Linked DNA regions of Homo sapiens. The protein of the gene in region 1 purifies or fractionates together with the protein of each later gene. This does not show direct contact. Each region holds a gene or a part of one and is shown on either strand. Other genes may lie near its edges. The genes, in order: KRABD4, ASXL2, CCNQ, SLC43A3, SLC35F6 and GARRE1.

Region 1 (4,020 bases):
TTTTCCTAGGACTTGTACAGGAGGCTTAGACAGGGTAACTTCCCAGGGGATGGCTGTACTGAGTTTGCAAATTTGGGCTGAGACTCATTCAAACTACCTGGGGAATGCAAGTTAACCTGCAGAGGAGAAAGCGAAAAAGAAAAAGGAGAAAGACCCATGTTCAAATGGAAATTAAATACATATCTGATGGATTCCATGATCAGCTTTAACACTTTCATCTATAAACAGTGTCTGGCACCAGTTGGCTCCAGCACAGAAGGGATTGCTTTGTACCTGGTGGAGACCCTGCCATGCCTGACCCAAGGAAGCCTGCTTGGTGACTAGGCAGGCACAGAAGGATGGAGAACACACTTCGTCTGTTTCCCCCAGGCCCAGACAGGAAACAGAAAACTTTCCTCAAGGCCATTACAGGCCTTTTTAGGGGACCATGTTGCCACTGGCTGGCAATCTCACAGAAAACACCTCTTTGCTATTTACAGTGCGTTTTCAAAAAAGTAAAATCCAGATTCTCCCAGGGTGTCTAGGATCTCAGGAATTGGAGCCCCTCTATTGCGTAGAGAAAAATCAGAATGAGGGTTTCTTTCCTCATTTCAAGAGATCGCTGGCTCTGCAGCCCAGCTCAAAAGCCCATCCTCCAGGCCACTTCCCCGGCTGAGCCAGACCCCTTGCTCCCATGACTCTCTGAGAGCCAGGCCCAGGGTCGGGTTCCCTGAGACCAGCCTGGACCCTAGATGGCCACGCCTCCGAGCGCTATTGGCGCCGGAGGCGCGACTCTTTTTCCTATTCCCAGGAGGGTAAAAAAGCGGGAACAATGGCTTTCAGGACGGAGGGACACAAACACCCAATGCCGCAGCGACTGGGAGGGTCGCGATGCAGGAGGACGAAATGGGAGAAGGGGGACAAGGGGGACTTCGGCCTCCCTGCGGGCGGGAGCTAGGCCGCTGGAAAGTCCGCTCGCCTCTCGCCGGCAAGGGATGACGCCCTGGGCCTTTTGTACCACTCGCCACGGAAAATGGTCACACGCTTTTGTCCTCAAGCCGAACACTATCAGAAACACGGGGTCCCTGGAAGCCGCCATCTTGGCCATTGGCGGTGGCGCACCCACCCCCGTGCTACTGCGCGTGCGCGGCGCTGCGACACACTCCGACCCCATCCCGCGTTCCCAGGGGGCGGTGGGAAGCGGAAGTGCTCCGCTGACCCGGGAGGGCGGTCCCTAGTTCACACTGGCTGTTGTCAGCGGCCTCTGAGGTTTCAGGCTCTTGGCGGTGAAGTAAGAGGGACGCGGAGGTGGTGATGGTTTTGATGGGGGCGGGGGTTGACGGGGTCGTGGGGTCATGGGGCCATGGGTGAACGCCTTTGTGGGTGACAGGGTGGCTCTACAGCCCAGCTCAAAAGCCCATCCTCCAGGCCACTTCCCCGCCTGAGACAGGCCCCTTGCTCTCAGGACCCTCTGAGCCAGGACCAGGGTCCGGTTCCCTGAGACCCGCAGGCCTGTGGGCGTGAGTGCTGGGGACGAGGTTCAGGGCCAGCGAGTGACTGATTGAGTCACTCCGCGCCTGTTTCCTGAGCGCCTAAAAATGCCAGGCAACCTTGCAAATGTTTCACATTAATCTTCACAGGAGCCCTGTGAGGTGTTACGATGATTATTTTCGTGTTATAGAGAGAAAATGGCTCAGTGTGGCTTGACAACCTGTCCAAAGTCACGTAGGTAGCAAACCCGAGGAATCTTTTTTTTCTTTTCCTGTGCTTCGTTTATCATGTTTATTGTTTCCTGTGTGTCTCCCCCGCTGGACTAGAAACTCTGCGGGAGCTGGGACTTTGAGATTTTGTTCCCTGATGTATTTCCAGCACGGAGAACGGGCTCATGGAAGGAAGGCACCCATTTCTTCAGTGAATAAAAGTGGCACAGCAGTCAGTCAGTTGATTCCAAAGCCCGGACTCAGGAAGGCAGGGTTTCGCTCACTGAGGATAATTGAGCTGTGAATCAATGTTAACTCTTAAAGCTAGAATGAGGCATTGTCCCTCTTCTGCTGGGTAAAACCTTTGGGTTTTACTCAACTTCACTGCATGGAAGGGAGCATAGGTGTTGCTAATTGAATCTCCTGTGGTCATTGTGTTTCCAGGGTCAGAGTGCAGACCTGAGACCACTGCTCACCGACTTCAGACTCCAGTTTATCTGTGCCCCAGCTTCCTCACTTAGTCTCAGAAGACTTAGGCTGAGGCCTCAGAAGGAGGTGAGTTCCCTGGGTCACAGGCAGAGATCTGGTGCTATAGTGATGGCCTCAACTGGGGCGTGTTTGTCTCTGAATCCCTTGGTCCTGCGGCCTTGGACACAAGAGAGGTACGCTGAGCTGAGGCGAGTTGGAGGAGAAGCCTCAGCCCAGAGCCCAGACCCAGATCCTCAGGGCAGAGAAAGGAGGCTCACAGGATAGCAGGTCCTAGAAGAGCTGGACCCATAGTGGCCTTTGTCCCTCACTTCAGCTGAGACAAAGCAAAGCTGGCTCAACTTCCAGATGCCATCGAGGACCGTGTGACAGTGCAGTTTGATTCCTGCTGGAGGAGGGACAGGTGAAAGTCACAGGTGGATGGAGGCATGGATGTCCCCCCATGGGGCAGGTGCCCTGCTGTAGTGCCTGTAAAGGCGCTATGAGGCTGGGAAGGATCACAGCCAGCCACAGAGGATTGGCCTCTCCTAGCACACCTATTTGTGCACCCCTGTGTTCCCGTCTCTTGCCATTGGCTATTTCTGAATTTGAGTCAGCCCCACACCATCAATCAGGCACCTGCTTCCAGGGGAAATGCTGAGTGTCCCTTCATCCTGACCAAAGTGCAGAAAATATATTTTTAGTTTATAGAATTTCCAAGTAGTCTCTAGGTACGCTGTCATCCATCTCTGCTGCCTTATTTCAATGCTTAATGAAAGTGGGCCAGGGGACATGACCTGCTAAGCCACACCAAGCTGAACCCTGTTGTCCTGATACTGTCACAATGATTGTTGCAGTATGCAATGGTTACTCTGCACAGAAGCTCCTTGCTGGAACTTTATTTGAAAAACTACCAAAGAAGGAGGAGCCTGGTAATCAAAATGCAAATTGTGAGAAAGGAGAAAATGATGGGGTGGGAACAGGGTAGGTGGCCAGTTAAAGAGGCAGATGCAGGGGAGCAGGCACGGTGGTTTTCAGCCCCTCACAGAACTGACAGTGCTGGGCTGTTACCCACCCAGCCCCACACCTCTCCTCCACTGTGGCCCTCTGAGCCCCTGTTGGGCTCCTTCCTCCAAACCACATCAAGAGATCCTACTTATACACACTTGCAGAGGGTCTTTTCACCTCTAGGGCTCGGTTTGATAAGTGGTGATTTTTAATAATTTTTAATTTTTGTTTTACTAGTGATATTCTTTGTCAAAAATTGAGAAAATGCAAATAAAAGAAGAAAATTGAAATCACCACTCAAAAGTAACCAATATCAGCATTTTAATAAATCCTCTGAGACATCATATATGTGCATATTGATTATCAAAAATGAGATCACACTGCGCTTGCTTTCTTGGAACCTGCTTTTAAACACATTAGGAACTAAAAACAAATTCCATAGCATTTTGAAAGGCTGTTCAGTATACCTGCTTTTGCATGTGTCATATTTTTTAACTGTGTCCTCTTTGCTGGATATTTAGTTGCTTCCAATTTTTTTGTTTATTTGTTTTTTGTTTAGACAGGGATTCCCTCTGTCGCCCAGGCTGGAGTGCAGTGGTGCCATCTTGGCTCACTGCAACCTCCACTTCCTGGGCTCAAGTGATCCTCCCACCCAGCCTTCAGAGTAGCAGGGACTACAGGTATGTGCTACCATGCCTGGCTAATTTTTGTAGAGATGGGGTTTCGCCATGTTGCCCAGGCTGGTCTCGAACTCCTGGGCTCCAGTGATCTGCCCACATCAGCCTCCCAAAGTGCTGGGATTATAAGCATGAGCCACTGCACCCGGCCGCTTCCACATATTAATATTTTAATGGTAGAAATGACTACA
Region 2 (3,500 bases), on another chromosome or scaffold:
CATCCTATTAAACAGAAAGTAAAGCCAAATAGCCTGGAGTTGTTTGTCCTACTTGTTCCATAACCCCTATGCTCAAGATACTGAAGCTATCTGTGGTATTTCATGTAACATTTCTAAGAATAAGAGCTGGCAAATGGGAAACTTGGGGTGGAGAGAGCATACTTATTGGGCTGTGAAGGCATACGGATGTACATGTTTTAGAGCTTATCTCAGATTTAAATAGCCAAAGGAAGACCTCATTGCCTTCCAGGTGAAGGTGCAAAGTCATACATATTAATGACCTGACAGTTAACATTCTGTTGTTTATTATTGCCTTTCTCCACCTTAGAGAGCCATAAATAACTCTCTGGTGAAGTGATTTGCTATAATGGGGGTGAGGAGTGGGGAGACTTCTCTGGTCATTACACTGCTATTTATTTCTAGAACTCACTATCAGTGAGCAGTGCCAGAGTGTTTTCTCTTTGACCTAGAGGTTTCACATCATAGCAAGGAGGGAAAAGTCTCCCCATCTCCTTACAACTGTGTGCTAAGTAAGTAACTTGGCCAAGGGTAGTTTTCAGCTCAATTTATAGAATAGTCCAAAGAGACTTTGAGAAACATGGTGATAGGCAGGGGCCTTTCCTACCATGTTTCAATACCTACAAACCTATTGAAAGAGAACAGTAGGTAAAACATTTCCTAAAGTTGAAGCAATAGCTTCGTAGATTCTTGGTTACTTTATTTTTTTTAATGCTTTACATTTGATACAACTATTGAAGATCAATTTTAAAAATAGCTTTCCAGTAATATATTTTAAGTAATATATATTTTAATATCTGTAAAAAGTGACAGTGGAAGACTTTGAATTTCTCATATATGGTATGTTTGATGTAGGACCTCACTGTTAAGGCACAAATTATTTCAAAGGAAGTTACTCTAAAGACACTCAGATTATTTCAGAAAAATGCAATAAGGGGAATAGTTTTGGGGTTTATTTTTTATTTTAAAAGAAAATTGACTTATTTACCACAAGCTATTTTTTTCCCTTCTGGCTGTAAGGTTTGTACAGACTGGTTTGGTAAATGCTAAACTTTTGTGTCTTTTGCCTTTTTAAAGGAATTGTTAACATTGGAATTGAGGGTATGTACAGAGAAGTTGGTGTCAACACCATTTAAAAAGTCATATTTTTTCACAAATATAGAAAATCATTTTACATAAGAATTTTAAGTATTTGCAATAAATATATGTATATAGATTGTATGTATTCCTATATTCTTATTTTTCATTTTATTATTAAGTAAAAGATCATTAAAAGTGAAAATAAAAACCTTGGAGTTTTTTGGTGAATCTTGAGGTTTAACATACATCTGAGAGTGGCGTGGGTAAGAGTCCTCAGTTACTGCCTTATACTCCTATGGGATGGTTCCCACAGATTGTATGGAAGAGAGTAAAATGAGGAACTTGGTGATAAATCAGGGTAGTGTATTTCTTTTGGAATTTAAGTAAAACTGATTAAATTTTCCTTATCTGTCTGTCTCCATGTTTTCTCCCTTAATCTGTTTTGTCTCCTAACCCCCTAACATTACTGGAAAAGTGAAGAAATGCGGTGCAGCCTCTTTATTAATGTGCCCATTGTTTGCTCCTAAATCAAAGAATGGTAAGGAAATATCTCGGGGGAAAAAATAGGTTTTCCTTTCTCCACAGTGGTTGACATTTACTGCCACCACTTTCCAGGCCTTAGGGGAGTGTGAAGAAATAGTTTCTTGAAGATGATAGAAATTTTTTTTTTTCCGTTTCCCAGTTCTCTCAGAAGTGAGTTTCATAGCCAGTCATGTCCTTCCTGCCCGTCTAATCTGGAGAGGTCAAAGAGCAAGGAAAATAATGTGAAGAGAAACACCTGTGCCTTGATTAGGTTCTATTTCAGCATTTGACACTTGAATTTTGAACTCCTCTGGGTCAGGAAGGGTAGCTATGGAAATGAGGTCTGAGCCAGTTGGTAGGAGAGGTTGTCTATGTTCCCATACCGAGATTGCTGTCTAATCCACGAGAACTCATTTTGTGGCTGCAAAGTAAATACTTGATTTTAGGATATGATAGGAGCAAAATGGTGCCTACATCGTCTTTATAAAGAAAAGTATATAGCCCATTTTTTAACAAATGAATAATATATCGAATCATTGATGACCTAAAAGAAAAATTGTTAAGGTCAGATTTTCGAGAGTGTATCTTGATGACCCATAAAACTGACTTTTTATTGTAGTTCACTAGTTCCCATAATTGCCCAGCTGTGGTTACTTTCACTGAAAAGAAAAAATATATTTTGGAAGTTAATGTAAGGATACATTGGCTTTTTTTTTTTTTCTTTACATTGGCTTTTTAAAAGACAGTTTTTATTTTTCAGATACTGGAATGTCAAGTATCTGGGTTGTCCCAAGACGTTGGAGATAATTCAGCCTTCCAAGAGAACAGCAGTCTAGATCTTAGCTGAAAATGTGCTGTTTCTAAAGGAAGCTTCTTAAGTCTCAGGGGACATTAGCATCTTCATAATTTCCATATATAATAAGAATGAAGGTAAAATATTTAAATGTGTATAAACTAATCCATAATGACCATTTACAAAGATTGACTCCCCATTTCTGGTACATATTTATCATTATTTAGATGGGTCTCCTATCTTGTGGGAAGATAAATTTATATTCAGGTGATGACATGGGTGCCTGCAAGTAGAGTTGGTCTGCAGCTGAGGGAGAAGGCAACATACCAGAAGACAAGGCAGCTTCAACCTGGATCCCCAGCTACCCTTTATTTACTTCACTGAGTCAGAAACCCGTGTTCATTGCTTCTGAGACTACTTGACCTCAGCTGGTCTTTAGAAGTCTGGTAACTTTTTATGTACAAATCATGTTATTTACTAATTCAAGTATTTATAGAGCACCTACTGTGCACTAAGCACTAAAGTGCTGGTTATGCAAAGGTAAGCAAAAATAGTCATGTAAGTTGCAGAAAGGTTTTCCTAAAGTAGTGACTATACAGCATGTTTTTAGTTCTAGGCTCAAGGAGTAATACTACCTTTTTCCCAAGATAGGTTGAAAATTTAAATGAGTTATGAAATGGAAGTGTTTGAGACACTGGACACAGTAGTGGCAAATACATGAAGAAAGAAGGTCCCTAGATGAAAAAAGTGTGGAAATGAGGAGCCATATTAATAAAATGCACCTTTTTTGAGAACTATTGTTGGAATAGCTAAAGTTGTCTATAGAAATTTCAAGAAATCTCTTAACATCTAAATTAGAAGCAGGCCAACAGCAATCTCTGTCAGTAGTTAATTTAGGTCAGTAAGTTAGTGTTTTGTTAAACTAACCCTTTCAAACACAGTTGGGTAAATAATGCAGCTTTCCTGTCACTGTTCAAACCTAAAAGAAGCTAAAGGGAATTTTTCTTAAAACATGATTTTCATCTTATAGATGATAAGTAACTGTATCTCTTCATTTGGAATTGTTGCATCCCAGTTTTTCTCCATA
Region 3 (3,500 bases), about 110 Mb from region 1:
GCAGCAGGGCCCAGGCGGTGACGGCAACAGGGGTCCGCTGCCAGCTGTGGCGGTTCAGCCAGTTCTGGAGGGAAACCAGGTAGTGGAGCAGGTACTGCAAAGACACGTGTGTCAGCCTTTAGGCCCACCAGCTGCTCTCCTCATGCTGACATAATCATATCAGCACCTGCTCCAACCCTCCAGCAGCTTCCATGTCCCTCAGGAAGAAGCCCCAAGGCCTTCTGCTGGCCCCATCTCCTGCCGATCCCACCCTGCCTTCCAGCAAACCCCATCTAGGGCCTTCGCACTTGCTGAGCCCTCTGCCTGAAACCAGCTCACCGTATGCACCTGCCCACTCTCACCCTCCAGACCCAGCTCTAGGGAAACCTACGAGGGCCACCCCCACCACAGTCCCTCTCCACCACAGGGCCCGCTCTGGCCACCATGAAATTCCTCGGGGCCTGGTGCTCCGGAAAGCACCCTCTTCATGGGCAGAACAGAAGGTGCTGCTCCCCATGCATCTGGCCTGCTGCCAAGGGCACATGCTGTCCTCGGCCACAACATCCAAATGACCTCCCAGCCCAGCTGCCAGCTCCTGCTCTCAGAACACTGACATTTTGCCAGAACCTCACACAATAAGACAGATGCTGCGAGCTCTCTGGACAGTCTGGAACACACATGCGTGTGACCCCAGCACACCATGCAGGAGGGATACATAGGTTACTTTCCACCCCAGCCCTGACTGGAAGGAGGGGAAGGGGCTGGCAGGCTCCCAGCCACACCAAGCTATCAGTTCCCCATCTGGGCACAGATCACACACCCCTTGAGGTCTGAGTGCTGCTCTTTCCTAAGCCCTGTCGCCTTGACAACTCCACCCTGCAGCCACCAGGGCATCTCCCACCTTCCCCCAGGATGCTCAGCAAGCATTCTGCCCACTAAGACACTACTGCGCAGAAATCCCAGACCAGGGCTTTCCAGGTACTGAGGTGGGAGTGTGGAAGGCTGGAGGCAAGATTATAAAGGCAACACGAAGGGCCCATGCGGGTGGAACCGTCTCTCACCTTGGCTGTGGTGGTAGGTCCGTGAACGGAGTCGTGATAAAATGGAACAGAAAAATATACACACAGGAATACAAGTGGAAGTGAGGATGCCAGTGGACTGTGTTGGTTTTGGCATCCTGGCTGTGTTACCCCTGGGGGAGACTGGGCTAAGGGTACATGTCACAACTGCATGGGAATCTACAATGATCTCAGGAAGAGTTCCGATGAAAAAGAATGAAACTCCTAGCCCAGAGCCCCAAACCACAACTCCTCCATCTCTGTCTCCGGCCAGCCTTCTGAGCTGCCCGTGCATGGAGCTGCGGTGCCCAGAGCATCGTGTGCCAGTCGCCTAAGCGTTCCACTTTTCCCTTTTACTGCTGTTTGAAATGGTTCTTCTGTTGAGACTCACACATTCCTAGAAGTTAAAGCATGCTGCTTGACTCAAGCGATTTGGCTTTCCCCATGGCTTCCTAAGCACAGCTGAGCTGGAGGCGTGCTCCGAGGCATCACAGCATCCCCTGGGGACGGGGACTCTGGCCGGTCACAAAACCAGCCTGCTTCCCCGAGGCCCAGCGTGCACACCATCTATATGGACCACAGGAGCTGCCACAGCTTCAGCGGGCAGCACGGACCCCGCCCACAGGTGAGCAGGCAGAAAGGCAGAAGCTGAAATGAGAATTGGCTGAGAAAACCCACAGGGGTGGGACGGGAGAGGCCGGGCGGCCAACCCAGCCACAAACACAGAGCCAGGAGACCCAGTTCCCAGCCGCAGCCCTGCTCTCCTTCTGTGCTGTGCTCTCGAGTATGAGATGGGATGCACTTTTGGGATAAAGAACAGAGACCATGGCTTGAGCCTCTCCAAACAGGCACCAGTTCCCCAGTATGTACCTTGTGTGGATGCTGGAAGGAGACCTGGAAGCGCAGAACTCTCAGCATGAGAAGCTCACACTGCACGATGCTGTCCCGGAGTTCCCAGAAGCGGGAGTCCAATTCCAGGGGCTCACCGCTTGGGTTAAAGTACCTGCGCAGAGAAATGGCAATGCTTCAGCAGCCAGGGCAGTCTCCTGAGCACTGGATGGCTCAAATTGCTTAAGTCACACAATGTCCAGATGCAAACTACATCGTCCATCTGCAGATTCATGGAGGGTCATTTTATTTGGGTTTTTATACAAAAATTCTTCATCTCCACATCTAGTGTAGAGAATGAAAACAGTAACCAACAGAGGAAAGAAGCCAGCTCCTAGTTTTAGCCAGATGGGCTGTCCGCTATCATTCAGCAAAATGTCAAGTGCAAAGACTGGCTGTTGGCGATGGCTCCAGAGGAACCGGAAGCTTGAGCATGCCAAGTCGGTTGTGCTTCCTGTTATACTCAGCCCGGCATTAGGGAGTCTTCATCACCTGAGGTGGCAATGCCCGGGGCTCTCACTCTGGGCCCAAGGAACGTATTTTTTTAACTTATTTTTACTTTTTACTTTTTGAGACAGGGTCTTGCTCTGCCTTTCAGGCTGGAGTACAGTGGTGCAGCCACAGCTCACTGCAGCCTTGACCTCCTGGGCTCAAGCGATCCTCCCGCCTCAGCTACCCGAGCAGCTGGAACCACAGGCATGCGCCACCACGCCCGGCTAATTTTTGTATTTTTGGTAGAGACGAGGTTTCACCATGTTGACCAGGCTGGTCTTGAACTCCTGGGCTCAAGCGATCCACCCGCCTCGGCCTCCCAAAGTGCTGGGATCACAGGCGTGAGCCACCACGTCCAGCCATCCAAGGAACATGTTTAAGCCTCTCATGGGAATGATATACTCCAAAAAGTGAACATTTCTCAGTTTTGTATTTCCCAGACCGTCTTTCCCTCGCCTTGGCGAAGACCCTGCATTCTGCCCCAGCAGGAACACACCTGCTTGGGCCGGCTGTGCCATGCCCACGCCACACCCACAGCAGGGCGAGGCTCCTAAGCAACTGGGACCTACCACCTGGCTGGGTCTGCACCCTCCCGCTGCAGGCAAGCTCTTCTGCCTGCAGCCATCCCTGTCTAAGACTTCCACAGAATCTTCTTTGACATGCCTCTCCAAGCTCCCTCTGCTGAAGCCCCGCCTCTGCCCTCCATCCAGCTTTCGAGGCTCCCCATAATCTGGCCCAGCGTTTCTCTCACAGACCCCACTGGCCTCTGACATCAGGCTCCTTCTCACGTTTGCTGCTACTGTTTCTGGCCCTGCCTGGTTCAAGGCCATCCAGGTACTTCCTTCCAAGCTCCATTGCTGGCACCTGGTGGGCAGGGCCCCATAGGAGCCTTCCCTGCCCGTCCCCCCCACCGGGTGGAGATCAGGAGCCCAGCCAAATGCCATTACCTGTTGGACACATTGATGATGTCACGAGTCCGCAGGTGCTGCTCTTCCACTTTGCCGGCCAAGTAAATTGAAGACATGGCAATCAGGTAAGGGTCATAGGCGTCCAGGTTGGTCTCGCAAAAGAACTTATGGTAAA
Region 4 (3,500 bases), on another chromosome or scaffold:
ACAGCAGCAAACGCCCCACTCTAAAGGTCCCCCAGCCTCTACCCAACACTGGCCCAAGCACATTATGACCACTGCCACAAAAGCTTGGGCAAGTCTGAAGAAGGGGCTTAGCGGTTACAAGCTCAGGCTCTAGAACCGACAAGCCTGGGTTCAAGTTCCAGTATCATGGCTACTAGCTGCAGAACCTTCAACAAGCTTTTTAACCTCAGAGACTCAAATGCTTCATCTGTAAAATGGGGGTAACACAGTACCTACCTCACCGAGTTGATGGAGACAAATAATGCAGGTTCACAAGACAAGTGTCTGGCATATACAAGTGCCCAGTGAATGTAGGCTGTTGCTATATTTACCTTAATAATAAGGAAGACTGCCGAGGAAGAGTCAAATGCTCCATTGTACAGAGTGATGATGGTCGAACGGTGTTGGCCAAATAGGTTCCCAATCTGGGGATGATAGGACTAGCCTGGATCACTTATTTATTCATGAAACAGATACTTCCTGAGCACCCAGCATGTGGCAGACCCTCCTTATACCCAAACTCACCCTCCACCGCTAGAGCTCCCACCTCAGCTTGGGCCAACCCCATCTGAGGCAGCCAATTATAGAAAAGGGTCTCTCCTTCCCTCCACCTTCCCGCCACCCTGCCGAGTGCCTGGGATTAGGGAAGGCTCCCACCTGCAGGTTGGTGATGAGAAACAGGATTCCCCCAATGGTGAGCATTGGCATGGCCAGGAAGAGCAGCACGGCTGAGCCTGGACCATCAAAGTCAGAGGTAGGGTGGTGTCATAGTGCAACCCAAACATGGAGCCCCAAACTCTGCTCCCACCTGCTCCAAATTCCCAACAATCCTGGTATCCAGGCCCCAATTCTAGCCAGCGTTCCAGCGTCCTTCAAGGGTTTTTAGGATACCGGCCAAGGCTTCCCCAGATATCTCTGTGGAAGTCTTCTGAGCCACCTTCTTCCCAACCAAAGTTGGTCCTCAGTCTGTGGCAGGCCAGGAAGTCTACAGACAGAGGCAGAGCTCTAAGTGAAGCCACCTCTCTCTTCCCTCAGTAAACCACAAGCTGCCTCTCCCTTTCATCCTTGACACTCCTGGAAAAGAAGACCCTGGACTCAGGTCCCTGGCTCAACCCTCTAGCCCATTCCCTAATTCATGGTATTGGCCTTGAGCTTCAATCATCTGTTTAATGGGAACAACAGTTCCTGCTCTTCCTGTCTCAGGTGCTATGAGAACTGAGTGAGAAAAGGACCATGGTCTTTTCTTTGTTCACTAAACTCTGAGCACTTCTTTGGTGCCAGGCATTGTGCTTGGCACTGGAAATGCAAGATGAATCAGATAGTCCTTGCCCTTAAATAGACTGACATGCAAACAAATGGTTATAACAGGTCTGGTAAGTGTGAGACCACAGCAAAAAAGCTCAAGAGCTGGGCTAGGGGAACCCTTGACAAATTCTTCCTCCCCAAACCAGACTTCTGCCCACCATTATTCTGGCCACAACCTATGCCTGTCCTATTATTTGCTAAAATGTTTTAAGTTGACTCACTTTTATCCAAAAAGTATCTATTTTTAAAGGACACTTTATATCACTACTGTAGATGAAAACACTGGCATTACTTGTCATGAATAGAAAGTAACTGTCAAAATAAATACAATGAAAGGAAAACAATGTTATTCAATTGTAGCTGGATGCATTTGACCTTAGAATGTTCAAAGCCTAAGACCTGCTCTTCCCATCAGTGTTAAAATCACACTGGCCCCACATGAAGACATTCTTTCATGAAATCAGAAGGACTGAAAGAGAAATAAAAAGGGAATAGCTGTTCTACCAGGTGATTTGATGTTTGTTAGTGTAGTTCACGTAGTATGCGTGTGCCCCTAACATCCTCTTAACTACCGTGCTATACCTTAAGAAGCACTGCCAAGAGCTAATTTTAGAGTATTCACACAGTTTACCATTCAATTTCTGTCTTTATAAAATGTACATCTCTCCTACTACTAAAGGTTGGAGACTCCTTTCACAATAGAGTCCTTATGGGCTCAATGCTTTTTTCAAAACTGAAAAGCCCTATATTATGGAGGAAGAGGAGGATTGTTGCTCAGACGATTTGCAGGCACGAGTCAAACATTACCCAGCCACCACCTCCACATTCAGTTGCTTAAAAATCATTTACAGGCTTTTAGAGTAGATGATGCTGGTTTGATAAGGAGAGTGGTTTGAAATAATTGGTTTGAGGTGCTGGGCCATCTCATGAGATCTGTGTGAACAAAGACACTCAGCCTCTGTGTTTGCCCAGCATGAGTGCAGACAATCTCATGATGCTGTCAGCTTTAGCATAGCTTACACACACAAGAGTAATGTACTTTCTTTCCTAAACCAAAAATTGAGCCACGGGTCTAACACTAGGAAGGAATATTGGGAGGCATCTCGTGGCCACCATAACCAAGGCAATGACAGAAAGAAGAGTGAGGGATCAGGAGGCCTGCACATCAGGCCCACCTCCCACTTGCTTTCTCTGTGGCCATGGACATGTCTTTGCAAGGGGTCCTGCTGTGGCTTCAGTTTCTCCTCTGTGTAATGGGTGGAAGGGTGGTGGAAAATAAACCAGATTGGAGTTCCAGACTTAACAGACTGGTGAAATTTTAAAACAAAGATTTTGAGTACAATAGGGTTGTCAACTTTTACCCTGCTAAGTAAGGATATTTGCAAAATGGTCATTCATATAATCATTTCATTAAAAAGAGAAAGAGAACATTTTAACACATAGGAGAAGGATGTAAAGGTTTTTTGTTGTTGTTTTGTTTTTTAGGGTTTTTTGTTTGTTTTTTGGTAGAGTCTCACTTTGTCACCCAGGCTGGAGTGCAATGGTGTGATCTTGGCTCACTGCAACCTCTGCCTCCTGGGTTCAGGCAATTCTCCTGCCTCAGCCTCCTGAGTGGCTGGGATTACAGGCGCGCACCACCATCCAGCTAATTTTTGTATTTTTTTTAGTAGAGAAGGGATTTCACCATGTTGGCCAGGCTGGTCTTGAACTCCTGACCTCAGATGATCCACCCGCCTCAGCCTCCCAAAGTGCTGGGATTACAGGAGTGAGCCACTGCACCTGGCCAGATGTAAAGTTTTGAATAAATTCTACTCTCTGAAGTAATCCCTCTCCATCATCCTTGCTTTTCACATTTTCTCAATAAACTGTTTTCACAGACCAGCAATAGCTCAAGATCCTTCCAGGATTCTTTCAAGCTGCAGATCTCTGAATAACCATGTGGTCTGTATATCTTGCCTATAGCCCTCTGCTCACACCTGCCCCAGCCACCAGGTGCCTCTGAGCTTGCATCCCTCCCACCCACCTGACAGCACTCACCTGCAGAGGTGAAGGCTATGATGAGTGTGGCGGTGGTGTAGAAAAATCTGAAACACATAACAGGAAAAGCAGAATATTGTCAAGGAGGGAGAAACCTGGGAGAAAAAACATGATTCTGCTCAGCCAGCCCACAAGTGTAG
Region 5 (3,500 bases), on another chromosome or scaffold:
CTCCCCAGAAGCAGAAGCTACTATGCTTCCTGTATAGCCTGCAGAACTGTGAGCCAATTAAACCTCTTTTCTTTATAAATTAAATTACCCAGTCTCAGGTATTTCTTTACAGCAATTCGAGAATGGATTAATACAATTGCCAATTTTCCTTTTCTTTTTTTAAAAAATAAAAGCCAAAATAACACTTTTAAGATCCCAGGTTTTAGACAAGGCAGCTGTAGTCTCTCCATCATCCTCACTGTCCATTTGCTTCTTCCTGGGACAGACACTGTGGCCCAGTGAAGCTGAGGGGACCCTGGGATTCAAAGCTGGTGGAATGGACCCTCCCTCCCCCCACAAGCTGTAATAACCTGCTGGAATCCCACACAACCTGAGGGCTTCACTTGTCAACAGCTCCCTTCCCTCAGAGGCTATTTTGAGGCAGGCATTCGGTGTTTTATGACTGAGCTACCCAGGAGAATGGTTTGAGGCCACACTCAACTGTTCCAAGGAGCAGCACTGGACCAAAGGCTGCTTGGTTCCCTGCGGTTCCTGATGCCACCCCTTCTCTTCAGGGTGGTTACCTAGAAGACAACAGTACATGAGGCTTCCAGCCCAGCCCTAGGAGATCCATCCCAAAGACCCCACAGAGACCTGCATGGGAGGTGGGGCCACAGGTCTGGTATCAGGCAAACCTAGGTTGGAACACTGGCTCCATAAAGAGGAAGTCACTTAACCTTCTCTGGGGCATGGTTTCTTCATCTGTTCCCACCTCTGAAGACTATCGTAAGACAGAATGAAAGTTAAGCAACTTAACGCAACGCCCAGGATACCAGAATTATTCTAAATGGCAGAATCCTACTTAGTCTGTCATCTTGGGAGTTCTCTAGGCAGGCAGGTTGCCAGGGGTGGGGCTGAGATCCAGATGTGCTCTAGGTCCCTGTCTGCTGCAGAATCATGTGGCTGCTGGACCTGGGGGTCCCCCAGGTCCTTGCAGGAGCTGAGGGTAGGAGACTCCATTTGCCAAACAACTTAGAACTTTGGGCCTCAGTTTCCTTGTCTTTAAAAGGAACAGGTAAAGAATTCATAAAAACAATTGACAAGGGCTGCCTGGAATTTCCCTGTAATCTCTTCCAGGCAGAGGAGGCCTCAGAGGTGAGAGTAAGAGCAGGAAAACAGGGACAGGTTTCACTCTGTTGCCCAGGTGTGGTGGCTCAGGTCTGTAATCCCAGCACTTTGGGAGGCTGAGATGGGAGGATCGCTTGAGGCCAGGAGTTTGAGATCAGCCTGGGCAACACAGTGAGACCCATCTCTGCCAAAAAAATAAAACAATAAACCAGGCATGGTGGTACATACCTGTTAGTCTTAGCTACTCGGGAGGCTGAGGCAGGAGGACTGATTGATCCCAGGAGTTCAAGGCTGCAGTAAGCTGTGCCTGGGTGACAGAGCAAGACCCTGTCTCTCAAGAAAAAAAAAAAAAAAAAAAAAAGGCTGGGCGTGGTGGCTCATGCCTGTAACCCCAGCACTTTGGGAGGCTGAGGCAGGTGGATCATGAGGTCAGGAGATTGAGACCATCCTGGCCAACATGGCAAAACCCCGTCTCTATTAAAGAATGCAAAAAATTAGCCGGATGTGGTGGCACACGCCTGTAGTCCCAGCTACTCAGGGGACTTGCTTGAACCTGGGAGCGGGAGGTTGCAGTGAGCCGAGATCACACCACTGCACTCCAGCGTGGCAACAGAGCAAGACTCTGTCTCAAAAAGAAGAAACAAACAAACAACAAAAAAAACAGCACAGAAGGGTGGTGCTGTGGGCAGAGGGGTATTTCCAGTGGATGGGCTGTTACTGTTTTCTCAGGTTGGTCAAGATCACAGGCCCATGGAATGCTGGGGCCAGAAGGCACTAAGGCCACAGCATCAACATCTACTTCCCAGAGCATAACACCAAGGCCCAGAGCAACTGGGTAATGTGCTGGGAGCTACAATGAGTTTGAGGCAGAGTCTGGGCTAAAACCCATGTCTCCAGACGGGTTTAGGGAGGATCTTAGAAGTTTTAGAAAACATAATGCTTAGTTATGGCTGGGTGTGGTGTCTCACGCCTGTAATCCCAGCACTTTGGGAGGCCGAGGCAGGCAGATCACCTGAGGTCAGGAGTTTGAGACCAGCCTGGCCAACATGGTGAAACCCCATCTCTATAAAAGTTACCCAGGTGTGTTATGCACCTGTAATCCCAGCTACTCGGGAGGCTGAGGCAGGAGAATCATTTGAACCTGGGAGGCAGAGGTTGTAGTGAGCCGCCGAGATCGTGCCACTGCACTCCAGCCTGGGCGACAGAGCGAGACTCTGTCTCAAAAAAAAAAAAAGAAAATATAATGCTTAGTTCTGGTTTAAATTTGCTCACTGACTTTTCTTCTTTGAAGAATCAAATCTAGCTTATGACTCATAAACTAGATAACTATGATAATCTAGTTTATGATTCAGATACACTACGGTGGTAAATTCCTACAATTCAACTTCATGATTTAGCTCTAGTGCTGTAGGAGGGGTCCAGAGAGCTGAGGTCTGCCACTGCACTCAGGCTTGTGGGGGCTGGGTAACACCACCCTGCAGGTGGTAGTGAGAAAAAGAGGACTTGGGTGTTGTTATCTTCTGTGGCAGCAGCTGCCCTGGGGGTTCTGCAGGGAGGGGACAGGGTGAGGCCTTGGGGATAGGGCATTCGGGGCCCACCAGCCTGTGTGGCCTCAGTCTCAGGGAGAAGGAGCACCCGGGTGGCAGTAGAAGCCTCCAGGGAACCTCAGCTGGCATCATTGATGGGAGTGCGGGTGCCACCCAGCAGTCTCTCCTGCTCGCTCTCCTCTGCCAGGGGCCGGCCCCTGGACAGGCGGCCCAGCAGCGGACGGTGTAGCCCATTGTAGAGGGCAGTGCCTATAAGGAGTATGAGGAAGCCAAGGATCTGCAGTGCATGGAAGGCCTCCCAGCCCAGTGCCAGGCTCAGTGCCCAGATGACAACGGTGCGCAAGCTGTCCAACACCATGCGGGTGGTGGCGCTCAGTTCCTTGGTGACGCTGATGCCTGCGAAGTTGAAGAAGGCAATGCTGCTGATGTTGCCCAGCAGTGCCACGGCAATGAGCGGCTGCTGGCCCACCTGGCAGAAGGCGTCCAATGCATCCTCCAGTGTCCCACGAGGGTTTCCGCTGAAGGAGCCGGCGGGGATGTAGTACATGGGCACCAGCAGCAGGGAGAGGATCACAAAGCCAAAGAGGCCTGGGGAGTAGAGGAAACAGTTACACTCTCCACCTTCCCCCAGACCCCCAGCACAGCCCACCGGCTTAGCCTCCTCTGATCTCGGGTCATTCCCTCCCAGTGGTCCTCATGCCAGCTCCCTCCTTTCACGTCCCTCAGTCTCTCATCAGGAGCTTGTGGCCTATTAGATGGGTTCTAGCTGTCCCTTCTCCACTTTTACTCAGGGTTTTTTTGACTGGATCAAGAGTAAGAAATACATTTTATATTGTGACCCAGTAC
Region 6 (4,158 bases), on another chromosome or scaffold:
AAAAAAAGAGAGTGGACACCCAACCCATGTGATATCCCAGCCTGCTAGCTTTCAGAAACAATTATTTCCTATAGACTTGGAAGACCCACTTGACACATGGATCCTGATGTATTAGGCTATAGGTTTTCAACAGAACAAACATTTACTAAAATTTTCACAGAATCATGTGCAATTTGCTTAAAAAAAAAAAAAAGGATGCTTAAAACATGGTCTTCCAAACATCTGGAGATAATTTTAGATTGAAAAATCTAGGCTTGCCAAGGGAATCTGAGAACTTTTCTATCTTGGTCTCCAATGCCAACCTACGTATTTGTGTGCAAAAATAGAGGAAGATTAGAATCTCAAATGCCACACTGAAAAGTTGCCACAACAAACCTGAACTCTTCATATGGAGTTTGTTATCTTGTCAGCAAGAAAGCAAATGAAACGGCAATAAACTAAACTTTTTGCTTTAAAAAGAAAAAAAAAATCTCAAACATGAAATATTCCCTGTACTTGTATTGGAAAATGATTTCTTTTTAAAACAAAATATTGTGAAGATACTGTGAAAAGAAAATACTGTGATTTTTAAAGACACTTGAAAACATCTAAGCACACACAAAATGTAAATATGAACTTTGTAAGTAGCCCTTACAAACATACACTTAGAACTTTTAGTCTAAAATATGATAAAATGATAAAGCTTACATATTATTCAATAAATCTGGAACTGACTAGCCATTTACAAAATATTTCATATTTTAAACCAAGAATGAATTTTAGGTAGACTAAAGGCAAAAAAATAAAACCATGAAACGATGAGACGCAAACATGAATTTCTTTTTTTTTTTTTTTGAGATGGAGTCTCACTCTGTTGCCCAGGCTGGAGCGCAGTGGCACGACCTCGGCTCACTGCAACCTTCGCCTCCTGGGCTCAAGCGATTCTCCTGCCTCAGCCTCCCAAGTAGCTGGGACTACAGGAGCGCGCCACCATGCTTGGCTAATGTGTTTTTTTGTATTTTTTTAGTTGAATCCGGGTTTCACCACGTTGGCCAGGCTGGTCTAGAACTCCTGACCTCAAGTGATCCGCCCGCCTCGGCCTCCCAAAGTGCTGGGATTACAGGCATGAGCCATCGCGCCAGGCTGGAATTTTTTTTTATGACAAAGAGACAGAAAAATTGTCCAAATATGTCAAAGGAAAACAAATACTATGTATTCTTAAAAATTGAACGTTACGGCCGGACACGGTGGCTCACGCCTATAATCCCAGCACTTTGGAACGCCGAGCCAGGCGGATCACCTGAGGTCAGGAGTTCGAGACCAACCTGGTCAACTGGGCGAAACCCTGTCTCTACTAAAAATACAAAAATTAGCCGGGCGTGGTGGGTGCCTGTAATCTCAGCTACTCGGGAGACTAAAGCAGGAGAATCGCTCGAACCCGGGAGGCTAAGGTTGCAGTTAATCTAGATCCCGCCACTGCACTCCAGCCTGGGTGACAGAGGGAGACTGTCTCAAAAAAAAACAAATAAAGTTACCTTTGACCCCATTTGTAAATTTATTCTAAGATAACAATCAGACCAGGTGTAATATCTCACACTTGTAATCCCAACACTTTGGAAGGCGAAGGCGTGAGGGTCGCTTGAGGCCAGAAGTTTTGAGACCAGCCTGGGCAACAGTCTCTTATTAAAAAAAAAAAAAAAAGACCATATCAAACAAATCCTTCCGGCAGAATTGTTTATCTTGTGACAAATTGGAAACTATCTCAATGCTCATCGGTGGTTAAATCACATACTGTAAAGTCCATAAAAATAACAATACCTATCTGTATTTATTGATTATCACCAAAATGTTAGCAGTGGTTGTCACTGAATGGTAGACTGGCAGATGACTGTCATTTTCTACCTTAAGACTTTTTGTGTCGTCTTGAGTGTTTTGCCAGGAAAGGAGAATTAACTGCTTTTATAATGGGGATGAGGGACCAGAACAAGGTATTTTCAAACTGGAGGCCCCCAAAGCTGAGTCTCTGGAAAATTTCTAAAAAGTCTAAACAAAATTCTTATCATGCCAACCAGGCACGCTTCTTTCCTCGCACCGCGCGGCGCAGAAAGACACACCCCTGACTCTGCGCTCGTCCCTCGGGCTCGGGTCCTCCACGCTCAGCCCCGGCCCTCCCGGTCCCCGCGGACCCTCCCCTCGGGCCCAATGCGCCAGCTGGCTCCGCAGGGCCGGAAAAGCGCGTTCCTCGGCAGCCTGGCGCCGCCGGGAAGGTGCGCGCAGCCCGCCCGGCAGCCCCGGGATGGCGTGAGGGCCGCCTCCCCGGCTAGCCCCAGCGGACCCCTGCCGCCAGCAGGCCGCCCTCCCTCCGCGGGCTTCCGGGAGCGGGTCCTGGCGCCAGCGCGACCTCCCGGGCCCCGGCGAACCGAGGGAGCGTCCCCTTTCCCCGCCTGACGGGCGCCGACCCGCCCCTGCGGTGCCGCGGCCGCCGAGTCTCCGACGCGCCCCCAGGTCCCGGGTTCGCGCCAGGAGGCCCCTCCGGGCTTCCGTCGGCCGGCCAGCGCCCGCAAAGCCCGGCGTCCTCCACAGCGGGCGGGCAAGGGGCGGGAGCCCACGGCCCCGCGCCCTGCGGCCCCGAGCGGAGCGGCGCCCCGCGGGCCCGTCTCGCCGTCTGCCCTGGCTGCGGCCCGCGGCCCCGCTGCCCACCGCCCACCGCCCGACCCCGCCCGCCAGCCCCCGCCTGCGCCCGCCGCGCCCGCTCCTCACCTGCGACGCGCCCCGGCCCCCAGCGCACCGCCTTGGACCGGCTGTGTACACCGGAAGTTACGTCTCCGGTCCGGCCCCGCCCCCGCCTCGGGCGGACGCGGGGAGGTTGCGGATCCCGCGCCTAGAGCGGACTCTCCTCTCGCATTAGAGGGGAGGGGGCGCCCCGGAGCCTCCTCTCCTGGGACCCTGGGCCCCCAAGCGGGACGGCCGGGGCGGAGGTTGAGGACTGGCGGCCAGAGCCGGAGGTCCACCCAGATCCCCCACCATGGCTTGGCCCCCGGGCGGGAGGGGTCGGGCTGCGTCCTCCTGGATTTATTACTGAAATTGACTGAAATCGATTACTGGCGTATGGAGTGTTTCCTAGATGCCAGGCCCCGACGGGCACTGCAGGAACGGGTAGTGCTCTCTCCCTCATAAGTTTATTCCTTAGTGGTAAATACACAATACCATTGTCACATATCCGGGTGATAATATAGTACCAATGGTGACAAGTGGTAGGAGGGGAAAGAGTAAGAGGGAGGGAGAGAGTACCCTGACCTAGTAAAGGAGAGTGATCCGGAATTCCCCCAGGGAAAGAGCAGGAGCTGAGGTCCTAAGGGGTAGAAGGGAGAAAAAAAAAAAAAAAAACGAGAAGGGAGGAGAACACATTACGCAGAAGCAGCAGCAAGGGTCTTCCAGTTCTGTGGGTTTTGTTTGTTTGAGACGGAGTCTTGCTCTATCGCCCAGGCTGGAGTGCAGTGACGTGATCTTGGCTCGCTGCAACCTCCACCTCCCGGGTTCAAGTGATTCTCCTGCCTCAGCCTCCCGGATAGCTGCGATTACAAGCGTGCGCCACCACGCCCGGCTAATTTTTGTGTTATTAGTAGAGACGGGATTTCCCCATGTTGGCCACGCTGGTCTCAAACTCCTGACCTCAGGTGTTCCGCCCACCTCGGCCTCCCAAAGTGCTTGAGCCACGGAGCATGGCCCAGTTTTGTGTTCCAATAATAAATCAGAGTGGTGAGAAGTTAGGTCTTACTTGACAGTGTTGCAAAACTAATGAGTTTTAAGCAAGAGGTGATTTGTCCATACTTGAGAGTGTAAAGGGGTTACTCTAGATGCAGTGTGGAGAAGGAAGGACTACGGAGGGGAGGCAAGAGTGGATATAAATGTGTACACCCATGTTCATATTAGTCAGAAGGTGGAAGCAACCCAATGTCCATCCACGGGTGAATGGGTTCACAAAATGTGGTATAAACATAACAATAGAATATTACTCAGCGTTGAAGGAGGCCGGGCGCCGTGGCTTACGCCTGTAATCCCAGCACTTTGGGAGGCCAAGGCGCGTGGATCACCTGAGGTCAGGAGTTCGAGACCAGCCTGACCAACATGATGAAACCCCGTCTCTACTAAAAATACAAAATCAGCCAGGCGTGGTGG

Evidence for each region.
Region 2: the proteins of KRABD4 (region 1) and ASXL2 purify together in Homo sapiens (affinity purification with mass spectrometry, with the first as the bait; one large-scale study listed by BioGRID). This does not show direct contact.
Region 3: the proteins of KRABD4 (region 1) and CCNQ purify together in Homo sapiens (affinity purification with mass spectrometry; one large-scale study listed by BioGRID and IntAct). This does not show direct contact.
Region 4: the proteins of KRABD4 (region 1) and SLC43A3 purify together in Homo sapiens (affinity purification with mass spectrometry; one large-scale study listed by BioGRID and IntAct). This does not show direct contact.
Region 5: the proteins of KRABD4 (region 1) and SLC35F6 purify together in Homo sapiens (affinity purification with mass spectrometry; one large-scale study listed by BioGRID and IntAct). This does not show direct contact.
Region 6: the proteins of KRABD4 (region 1) and GARRE1 purify together in Homo sapiens (affinity purification with mass spectrometry; one large-scale study listed by BioGRID and IntAct). This does not show direct contact.

Annotation. Positions count from the first base shown.
Region 1 is NC_000023.11:46,446,077-46,450,096, forward strand, and holds the start of KRABD4 (KRAB domain-containing protein 4), read left to right. Parts: upstream 1-1,220; 5' UTR 1,221-1,270; intron 1,271-2,123; 5' UTR 2,124-2,234; intron 2,235-4,020.
Region 2 is NC_000002.12:25,735,488-25,738,987, reverse strand, and holds part of ASXL2 (putative Polycomb group protein ASXL2), read left to right. Parts: 3' UTR 1-3,500.
Region 3 is NC_000023.11:153,592,640-153,596,139, forward strand, and holds part of CCNQ (cyclin-Q), read right to left. Parts: coding exon 3,365-3,500; intron 2,041-3,364; coding exon 1,908-2,040; intron 95-1,907; coding exon 1-94. UniProt on the Homo sapiens protein: Activating cyclin for the cyclin-associated kinase CDK10.
Region 4 is NC_000011.10:57,420,622-57,424,121, forward strand, and holds part of SLC43A3 (equilibrative nucleobase transporter 1), read right to left. Parts: intron 3,408-3,500; coding exon 3,361-3,407; intron 753-3,360; coding exon 676-752; intron 444-675; coding exon 351-443; intron 1-350. UniProt on the Homo sapiens protein: Sodium-independent purine-selective nucleobase transporter which mediates the equilibrative transport of extracellular purine nucleobases such as adenine, guanine and hypoxanthine.
Region 5 is NC_000002.12:26,777,784-26,781,283, reverse strand, and holds the end of SLC35F6 (solute carrier family 35 member F6 precursor), read right to left. Parts: intron 3,243-3,500; coding exon 2,773-3,242; 3' UTR 53-2,772; downstream 1-52. UniProt on the Homo sapiens protein: Involved in the maintenance of mitochondrial membrane potential in pancreatic ductal adenocarcinoma (PDAC) cells. Promotes pancreatic ductal adenocarcinoma (PDAC) cell growth. May play a role as a nucleotide-sugar transporter.
Region 6 is NC_000019.10:34,253,196-34,257,353, reverse strand, and holds the start of GARRE1 (granule associated Rac and RHOG effector protein 1), read right to left. Parts: upstream 2,801-4,158; 5' UTR 2,740-2,800; intron 1-2,739. UniProt on the Homo sapiens protein: Acts as an effector of RAC1.